Regions from separate parts of the Homo sapiens genome. Here region 2 is linked to region 1. Evidence: fine-mapped expression QTL. A gene starts in region 1. The other region holds a variant in brackets. All regions are shown on one strand. Distances are between the middles of the regions. Region 1 holds the start of ZNF84 (zinc finger protein 84). Region 2 overlaps ZNF84 (zinc finger protein 84).

Region 1 (5,381 bases):
AAGCCTCAATTTCTGTACTTGCTAAAATGGTGAAGATAAAGTGGACCTCACAATGGGAGTCTAAGAAACAAATGAGGTGTTAAAAGGAAAGCGACTGGGGCCTTGTAATAACAGTTACAGCTAACATTCCAGTGCTTTCTGTATGTGAGACAATATACTAAGCATTTTAAATTTAACTCATGCACAACCCTATAAGGCGTTTAACATAATCTCCATTTTACAGAGAGAAAACTGGGACAATGAGTGATTGTAAAATGTGCCTGTGATTGCACATTTAGTAAGTAGCAAAATTCAAATGTTAATTCTCTATCCTGCTATGTTCAAAGCATGAATACTAAAGTCATATTGTCATTTGTGCATATCTACATGCACAAACACACACAACATAAATCCTGGAGTCAGCTCCTATTCCCATGCACACATTCAGTCACTAATTCCCACAAAAATATAAATGAAGGACGCCCTGCCTCAACTGTATCACACTAACAAGCAGCACTTTCTTTTTCATGCCTTTTTGTGGTTCAAACTTCAGTGCCAACTCAGAAACACACAGCAGTTTCTCCCAGTTATACAAGAAATGACTCCTTTATACCTTAAATTGTGATAATACATAAATCTTAGAACAAAAGCTGGCACACAGTCATACGAAACATATACTAGCTATAATTATTATTATAAAAGTAATATATGATGGCAAAATATAAAAAACATACACAAGCTAAATAAGAACTATTATCTATGATCTCACCACAGGTAACCATTCTTAGGATGATGGAAACTATTGTGATATTTTTCATACAATGGAAGCATATGGTCATATTTAAAAGCTGTTTTTGTTTTTTTCCCATTATGTGAAGAACATCTTTCCAGGTCAATAACCTTATTTCTGTAAGATATAAACAACTCACATAAAATAACAAAAAAATAAAATCCGACTCATAATTGACAAAATACATAAAATATGTAGGAATATCAAGACCCATATGAAGCATACTAAAAACACCAATGAGAACTATAAAAATAGAATTAAAGAAATTTATAATTCGATTTTATTCTGGGATAGGAAGACTTCAGATTGTGAAGATAATTTGACCTCAAATGATTTATATAACTCATCGACTCCAATCAGAATCTCAAAATTCTAAAGTTTATGTGTAAGAAAAAAGGTTCAAGAACAATTCGGACACTTTTTTTTTTTTTTTGACAGGGTCTTACTGTGTTGTCCAGGCTGAAGTGCAATGGCATAACCATAGCTCACTGCAGCCCTGAACTCCTGGGCTCAAGTGATCCTCCTACCTCAACCTACAGAGTAGCTGGGGCTACAGGCATGCCCTACCACACCGGGCCTGGATGCTTTTGGAAATACAAAATAATGAGTGTGAACAGGCCCACTGTAATACATACAAATTATAATCATTATAACATTTGACACTGGCTCCAGAGAAGTTATACAGATGAAAAAAAGCAAACTGTCTAAATATGCAAGAGTCAGCATGCAATAAATGTAGCATTTCAAAGCCATCAGTAAAATTAAATTATTTAATGAATACAAGAATATTTGAAAGAAAATAAACGTAGCTATTTCATACAACTACTTTCAGTGGGTTAAATTTTAAAATAATGGAAACCCTAAGAATGTCTACAAAAAAAAACCACAGGTGAATGAATATATGTATAATTTGAGGGGAGATTTCGCTACACCATACCAAAAGCAAAAGTCACTTAAAAAATTTAAAACAGTCAATAAATATAACCATTAAAAAATACACGGCCAGGAATGGTGGCTCACACCTGTAACCCCAGCGCTTTAAAAGCCTCCTTCGATAGCGGCAGAGCCAGGCTGCTGGTGGATGCGGTCCAGCAGGGCAGCCGCTCCTTAGGGCCACGGCGCGGCAAGCGGGCTGGCCCGAGGTCGAGGCTAAACGCGCCCGAGGCTAAACGCGCCCGAGGCTGGCGCCTCCACGCCCGCCTGAAAGGACGCCCAGGAGCGGCGCCTCCGGAAAGGCCGTGCCCGCCCCACAGCCCAGAATCCGCGCAGCTCCGCGGCCCACGGCATCTTCACGACCCGGCCCAGCCCCAACCCGCCCCAGACCCGCATCCGCGCGCGGACGCCCAGGGCCTTGAAGCCGAAGCTCCCCGCGGCCACTCCCGCGCGCCTCCCCCGCCATTCCCGGAGCCCCCAGCGCCGGGCCCGCAATAAACTCACTGAACTCACAAAAGACGCCGCCGCCGAGTCGCGCCCGCGCGCCCGCGGCCTCGCGATCACGTGACACCGCCCGTCCCCCGTGTCCCGCGCACGCGCCCAAACCGTCGGCCTTTGTGCGCTCCCGGGCGGCTCCGAACGGGCCGGGACGAGTCGGGGACTGCACACGCGCACACTCGCACGCGCGCACACGCGTACACTCCCCTCTCACGTGGCAGCGAAGGACAAAGAGGAAGAACGGGCCACCTGCAAGCATTACCAAGAGTGCATGTGCGCATGCGCGAAGGAAGGAGCCCCGCGAACTCAACTTCCCACAGTGCCCCGCGTCCGGAAGTGCCTGTCGCTTGGAGACGGAGTGACTCCAAACGGGCTCACACGGTTTTCTGAGAAACATAAAGGGAAACCGAATCCACCAATATATATATATATTTTCTTGAGACGGCGTCTCGCTCTGTCACCCAGGCTGGAGTGCAGTGGCGTGATCTCGGCTCACTGCAAACTCCGCCTCCCGGGTTGACGCCATTCTTCTGCCTCAGCCTCCCGAGTAGCTGGGACTACAGGCGCCCGCCGCCACGCCCGGCTAATTTTTTTGTATTTTAGTAGAGACGGGGAGTCACCGTGTTGCCCAGGCTGGTCGCGAACTCCTGAGCTCAGGCAATCCGCCCGCCTTGGCCTCCCAAAGTGCTAGGATTACAGGCGTGAGCCACCGCGCCCGGCCCACCAATACTCAATTGGTTTGACTTCAGTTGAGGAAACCAGAAAAAATTTAAATATATTTATGGAAAGAAGGTAAGAATTAACAGAAAAAAGTAAAGTTGATCCATAACTGGAGTCGTAGGGAGAATTATAGGTAAGTCACGATGCTTATGACAGCAAGATGGGGCCGGGGAGATGGAGGAGAGAGATGAAAAAAGAGAAATAACCATAGACACATAGGAAATTGAATGAAAATCCGCTCTATACTAATAAATTTGATAATTTGTGACACAAATGATTCTCCAGGACAACATGGGCCAAATTTGACCCAATTTTATCCACAATTTGAAGACAAATTCAGAGATCCTTTGCCAGAAAGCATCATAATGAGTTGCTTAGTGAATTGCTTCAAACATCCAGTGATTAGAGAATTCTTATATTTATTCCCAGAGGTAGAACTCACCAGTGAAGTACTAGCATAAAAACAGACGCATGGACCAATGTGGAACAGCGTAGAAAAACCAGAAATAACCCCATGCATATACAGTCAACTAATCTTAGGCAAGTCAACTAATCTTGTGTCAAGAATACACGATGGGGAAAGGACAGTCGCTTCAATAAATAGCGTGAGGAAACCGGATATCCAAATACTGCTACGCAAAAGACCTCATTGCCCGATGTGCACAGAAGCCAATACTATGGCACCAGGCGTTTGAGAAAAGAAAAGCTTAATTGCGAGTTGACCAACAAAGTGACAGGAGTTTAGTTCAAATCTATCTCTCTGTGCTGCCCTTAAGGCAGCACTATTGTGAAAAAAGGTTTAGAGGGTGGATTCTGGGATTCACAGGTGAATGGTGAAGGAAAAAGGAAGTCTGGAAAGTCCCCGACCATGTGCAGTTGTCTCTTCAAGCCTCTTCTTGGGTCCCATGTGCAAATTAAGGTAGAGTTAGTGTGAAAAGTGCAGTGGAAATTCAGGCTGCGACATCAGCAAGCTCATTCTGCATGGACTCCGTTTGGTTATATTGGTTTCAACTGATTTCAGCCAGTTGTATTATATTACAAACGGAGTTTCAGCAAACTGTTTCTTATCTGCCATCCTGTAAGCTCAAGAATTTCTGTTAGCCGGACGCGGTGGCTCACGCCTATAATCCTAGCACTTTGGGAGGCCGAGGCGGGCAGATCACCTGAGGTCAGGAGTTCGAGACCAGCCTGGCCAACATGGTGAAACCCTGTCTCTACTAAAAATACAAAAATTAGCTGGGCGTGGTGGTGCACACCTGTAATCCCAGCTCCTCGGGAGGCTGAGGCAGGAGAATCGCTTGAACCTGGGAGGTGGAGATTGCAGCGAGCCGACATCGCGCCACTGCACTCCAGCCTGGGCGACAAGAGCGAGACTCCATCTCAAAAAAAAAAAATTCGTTAGTCACTGGTTTCTTTAACTATTTGGGGGCATGGTTTCACAACTTCTTCTTCTTCTTTTTTTTTTTTTTTGAGACAATCCCTCACCAGAATCTAGGCCTTTTCTAACCTGCTCCTCCAGACTCTTCCAAACTCTGCCCATTACCCAGTTCCAAAGCCACTTCCACATTTTCAGGATTTATTATTAGCAACAGCCCCACTCCTCAGTACCAATTTTCTGTCTTAGTTTATTTTCTATTGCTGTAACTGAATACCTGACACTGAATAATTTATAAAGAAAATGAATTTATTTCTTACAGTTCTGGAGACTGGGAAGTCCAAGGTTGAGGGACACTTCTGGTAAGGACTTCCTTGCTAGCAGGACTCTCTGCAGAGCCCCAGGTCAGTCCAGGGTGCACACTGTGAAGGGGGATCAAGCAGCCGAGCCCATTTCTCTCTTTCTCTTCCTATAAAGCCACTAATGCCCACCCTCATGAGCTCATCTAATCCTAGTTACCTCCCAAAGGTCCCACCTCTCAATTGCCATAGGCAGCTTTCCCACTCTCCTAACACTGTTACAATGGGGGTTAGTTGCAACGTAATTTTCAGAGGGCATAGACATTCAAATCATAGCAGTATATATCCAAAATAAATAAAATTAAAAGATATCTCAGCGATATCTGCACTCCCCTGTTCATTGCAGCATTATTCACAATAGTGAAGATGTAGAAACAACCTAAGCATCTATCAAAAGATAAAGAAAATGTAGTATACGTACACAATAGAATATTACTTGGCCTCAAAAAAGGAGAAAATTCTGTGATTTACTACAACATGGATGAGCCTGGAGGACATTATGCAAAGTGAAATACACATAGAAATACACGGATACAGAAAGAAGATACTACACGATCTCACGTAGATGTGGAATCTTAAAAAGTCGAACTCATAGAAACAGTGGAAGAGTGGTTACCAGAGGTCAGGTGGCAAGTAGGGGAAATGAGGAGATGTTGGTCAAATGTTTTAAAAAGAGAACAAACTTGCAGTTATAACATGAATAAATTCTGGAGACCTAATGGACAGC
Region 2 (5,381 bases), 26 kb before region 1:
GAGGTGGGTTTTTCCCATGCTGTTCTTGTGGTAGTGAATAAATCTCATGAGATCTGATGGTTTTATACGGGCAGTTCCTCTGTACACGCTCTCCTGCCTGTCACCATGTAAGACGTGTCTTTGCTCCTCCTTCATTGTGAGGACTTCCCAGCCATGTGAAACTGTGAGTTCATTAAACCTCTTTTTCTTTATAAATTACCCAGTCTGTGGTATTTCTTTATAGCAGTATGAGAACGGACTAATACAGTGGCTACTGCTGAAAGCCACTGATGCTCTACATAAAGATAACAAACAGTTGAGGACAAGTAATAGACAATTGATTGCAGTTGTGAAAGTTAGAGGGCCTTTGGCTGCACAAAAAGCAGCTCACATCTGCTGTATCACAAGTGGTTATTAGGTCCTTGCTTGCAGGAAAAAAAAACTATTGCATGAGGAAAGGCCACGTGGAAGCCTCAAACTACAATCCACCCAAGATAGTAAATAAGAACAATCTCTGGGGGGATAGTAGAGATTAGAGACACCCTTCAGGATATAAAAGATTTAGGAGTGATGGTTCCCATCATATCTCTAGTAAAAACTACTCATAACTGCAATTCAACTTCAAGCTCAACTAAGTAGTAGTCCTGATCACAGCCATTAGGCCAGATGTGATATTTCCACTAGAAGAGATTAATACAGCCTCAGATACATGGTATATGGCCACTGATCCAGTAAATGCATTTTAATATCCCGATTCAGAAAAAAGCATAAATGTTTGCATTCATATCAAGTGAAATGATGTGGGCAATGAAATGAACAACATACACGGCCGGGCACAGTGGCTCATGCCTGTAATCCCAGCACTTTGGGAGGCTGAGGCAGGCAGATCACGAGGTCAGGAGATCGAGACCATCCTGGCTAACATGGTGAAACCCCATCTGTACTAAAAATACAAAAAATTAGCTGGGCATGGTGGCAGGTGCCTGTAGTCCCAGCTACTCGGGAGGCTGAGGCAGGAGAATGGCGTGAACCTGGGAGGCGGAGCTTGCAGTGAGCCGAGATCGTGCCACCACACTCCCGCCTGGGCGACAGAGTGAGACTCTGCCTCAAAAAAAAAAAAAAAAAGAAAAGAAAGAAAAACAATGTACACAAAATGGACAATGATATAACTAGTTTTGCTCCCAGAGCAATATTAACTCTCTCAACCTCAGAGCTGTGGTTATGGGAAGCACAAGGTCCCCCTAGAGGATCATCTGTGATCTTCCTGCTTCCACACTGCAGTACCCAAACCCATGTGTTCTTTCTCTTTGAAAACACAGCACCGTATAAAGGTCAAACATCAAGGATTAGCCCCAGAGGGGGCACTTTCCACCTGAGGACAGAGTGTTCTAAATTATAAACTACAGATACAGCATGGAACTTTGTACCCTTGTGTCCAAGGACCAGCATGCCAGAAAAGCCACTCTTTGCTGGGGCATTGACACTGATCATCAGCAGGTATGGCTGCTGTTACACAACAGGGCAGGAGAAAAAAGGAGTGGAACTCAGGTGGCCCTCCTAGGTGCCTCTTTGAACTTCCTTGCCCCATTGTGATGTAAGTGGACAAATACAGCAACTTGGATCTGAAAAGGACATGGTGGCCAGGGCTCTGACCCCCTCAGGAATAAGGGTCTGGGACAAGCTACCACATAAGCCACTTATGTCCACAGAGGTGCTAACAGGGTGTGATGAGAATCTACAGTGACTAATACAGAAAGCAACTGCAACATTAGGGGCTGTGGTTTGTCCTATGAATCTTCCTTTTCTTAGTGTCTCTTCAGAGAGAGCCCCACCAGAATCCTAGAGCAGCAGCTTCCCAAATGTAACATAGACAAGGGGATCTAAGTGGTGGGAAGGATGGACTGTGTGATCAGAAACATGCATTATGACTCAGATCTCTCTTCAAGGAGGGACTTACCCAGGGCAGGGAGAGTCATCAGCAGAGAACCTCCACTTTTGAAGCTGGCCTCAGCTGAAATGAGCTGCTTCACCTAAGAAATCAGCAGCATCACTGAAGAAAAGAGCTGCTTCACCTAAGGCTGCTTCCTTCCCAGGGCAGCCTGAGTCTGGGTGATGGGGTGAGCAATGCAGGGTTGTAAGGGCCTGGCCGTCTTGGTTCAACACGAGGCACTCCAATGGGCAGTACATGTTCCAGAGTTCCCTGCTGGCTCCAATGCAGTGCAAATTGACTTCTTCCTCAGCTCAATGTTTTCTTTCTTCTTCTTCAATCATTTCACAGCTGTTGATCCTCAGTAGACATCTTGCACCCAAACTTCTCAGTAACCACTTCCAGAGAACAAGTTACGACATAGCCTGATTTCCTCTGTTAGAAATATTTGGGTTGTAACAAACACAACTTGAGCCAGATGAAGCAAACATGAGAATTTATTAGGATATTTGGAGTATCTCACAGAAGAATTCAACAATCAAGACATGAAAAGGGCAGAGGTGGACCTGAACATGAAGACCAGAAGAACCAGGTACTGGAACACAATCGGGACTCTTTCTTGATTTTGCTTTCATCATGGCTTCATTCTTCTCTCTCACTGCAGACCATGTTTCTCCATGTGGCAGAAAACAGCCACTCACTGCA[C/T]CCACATTTAAATATAGCTTGTGATGCAAAAATTACACAGACAAAAAAGATAGTACTAGCTTTCTAGAAGCTTTCTAGTGGGAAAGATAAAACATGCAATGATTATATTATCACAGTGAGAAACACACGTACAGGTTCATATAGATTCAATAGGCATTAACAAGGAACAAGGGCATTTCAATTGCAGATTTGCAAAAACATAAGTGATAATAGAAATCTCAAGGAACTACAAGTTGTTCACAGAGGCCAGAAAATATTGCATAGGAGGAAAAAGTTTTCAGAAATGATAGATAGATAGGCATTGGTTTATACAAAAGTCCTTACATACCATAAGGAGAATGTTACACTTTAAGTCCACAATAAGCCACACGATATTTCAACATGAGGCATGTGAAATCAGGGTTGCATTTAAAAATAATCACTATGTATACATGTGAAAAATGGACTGAAAAATGATAGCAAGGTGCAGAAAACATGCATGCATCTGCAAGGGTTATGGTTGGTTATCAGCAGTTAGGCCAGGGGTAGGTGTTGAACATCTGAAAGCTCATTGGTACCTGTATAGACTAATAAGACCTCTGAAATTGACAACCTGGACATAGATTGCTGGAATGACCAAATGACTGCAGAGGTCTCAAATGCAGATTCCAAATGCCTACTGCTGTAGATTTTGCTAGAAAGTTACTTTTGATAAATACGGCATTCTGTGGGTGCATTTTATGTCAACATTCTAAAAGTGATGTTCCCGAAACCAAAGTATCACAAATATATGGACCCATAGGTAATGATGTCAGATCCTGCAAGAAAAAGTCACACAGAAGGCAATCCTGATACAGGTCTCAAAATTCAGTCTGGACCTTAAGGAAAACCCACTACTTAGTAAAAGGAAAACAATGTCAATTGTCCTTTGTAGAACTGTGCACAATTCCAGGTCAGTGGGAAAATCCAGGCAGTAAGAGAATAAGAAAAGATGATGCTTCCTGTATTTGGCCTCCTTTAGTATGCTATCTCAATGTACCTTATTGTGCTCCATAAAATCACAAATAAATCCAGTCTAACTTTAAAACTTTCTTCTTGATGTAGAATTTGTGGTAGGAAACAATAAGGGGCAATGCAGAGACACAGATTTGTGGTTTACAAGGTAATTTCAAAAACACATTAAAAAATCTCTAATTGCAGAATCAGAGCTCTCATGACACTTTAGAAGGTGAGTTCTAGTGATTACTGCACAACGTATTTGAACCTCTGCATCAGTTTTTAACTAGACCTCTGCTGTCAGCATCAATCCTCCCCATAACACCTGACATTTAGAAAAAAATGTTTGTTCTTGGGCAATCAATAGGCTAATGTTGAAGTTCCATTATCTAGTGTAGGAAGTATCAGGTTTAACTGCTTAATAGTTAATGGAATAATCTAGAATTTCCAAGACCTAATAAATCAATCTCTGGGATTGGAAAGAGAATGGTGATAGATGGAAAGAAAAAATAGGGCAAAAATCACAAAGTACAACATCACCCTGTAACTGTTCATTTGCATTAGTTGGTCTCCCACGTCTAGTAAAATGAATTTGAGATATTAAAAAGTAGGAAGTTCTTTTTCTTTTCTTTTTTTGACAGAGGCTCGCTCTGTCGCCCAGGCTGCACAATCTTGGCTCACTGCAACCTCTGCCTCTCAGGTTCAAGTGATTCTCCTGCCTCAGCCTCCTGAGTAACTGGGATTACAGGCACGCACAACCATGCCCGGCTAATTTAAGACAGGGTTTTGCCATGTTGGCCATGAACATGCTGGTCTTCAACTCCTGACCTCAAGTGATCCACTTGAGGTCTCCACTTGAGGTCCTCAGCCTCCCAAAGTGCTGGGATTACAGGCATGAGCCACTGTGCCCAGCCAGGAAGTTCATACACTTGAGTATGAACAAAAAGTTGGAAAATTAAATGCTTTAAAATTACAGCATGGAAAGACAGAATTATTTGGCTGTTGAACTGGTATTCTGGTTTAGAAAATTATTCATTTATTTAAAATTCCAACTTTCCCAAAATGTTGCAAAATCAATAATTAAAGGAGAAAATATTGTTTAAGGTAAAGGTGCAAAATACCATACTGATACAACAATTTGAACATAAAAGGAGAAGTCTTGAGTTTTTCTAAGTTTGCAATCAAGCTCAATATTGGACTTTTCTAAATTTCATCAGCATACAAAAAATATTAACTTTGCCAAGCAACATTATTGAGAGAACATTACAAAATCCTTACTTAGCTAAGGGATGGTTCATGCATTTTTATGGAAATATATAATGGTAAGTTCTCAATGTGAAGTTTTCCATGGGGATAATGCAACTAGTGAAACAAAGTCAAATACATTTCAAATGATAAAATGGAAATCTTGTTTCCTTATACAGATAGTTCCTGACTTAAGAGGATGTGACTTACAGTTTCTCAACATTACAATGGTATCCATACACTACTATTTTTCACCTTCAGTATTCAATAATTACATCAGATATTCAACACCTTTTTATAAAATAGATGATGCATTAGAATGTGTTCTGAGAATGTTTAAGGTAGGCTACGCTAAGCTATGATGTTTGGTAAGTTGGGTGTATTAAATGCATTTTTGACTTACAATGTTTTCAACTTACAATGGGTTTATTGGGAGGTAACCCCACTGTAAGTCCAGGATCATCTGTACTTTTCCAGGGACCACAGAAATTTGCTAGAAGATAAAATAGGCATCCTTGAATGTCAAAAATGTTTTTCCAGCACAAAATTC

The links.
Region 2: its variant is fine-mapped to the expression of ZNF84 in whole blood (TOPMed, PIP above 0.99). The same link has a PIP of 0.9 or more in B cells, breast, gastroesophageal junction, monocytes after interferon gamma, sun-exposed skin and thyroid.

Annotation. Positions count from the first base shown.
Region 1 is chr12:133,034,380-133,039,760 of GRCh38, reverse strand. It overlaps ZNF84 (zinc finger protein 84), which reads right to left and starts at 2,252. Exons shown (of 5, transcript NM_001289971.2): 1 at 2,216-2,252. ZNF84-DT (ZNF84 divergent transcript) reads left to right here and starts at 2,539. Exons shown (of 3, transcript NR_110091.1): 1 at 2,539-2,992. RefSeq lists a silencer at 2,146-2,325 and an enhancer at 2,546-2,635.
Region 2 is chr12:133,060,304-133,065,684 of GRCh38, reverse strand. It overlaps ZNF84 (zinc finger protein 84), which reads right to left. Exons shown (of 5, transcript NM_001289971.2): 5 at 2,386-5,381. Among named protein-coding and RNA genes, the nearest start is that of ZNF140, 18 kb to the left of the region's middle. The variant C/T (reference allele first, on the strand shown) is at 2,612.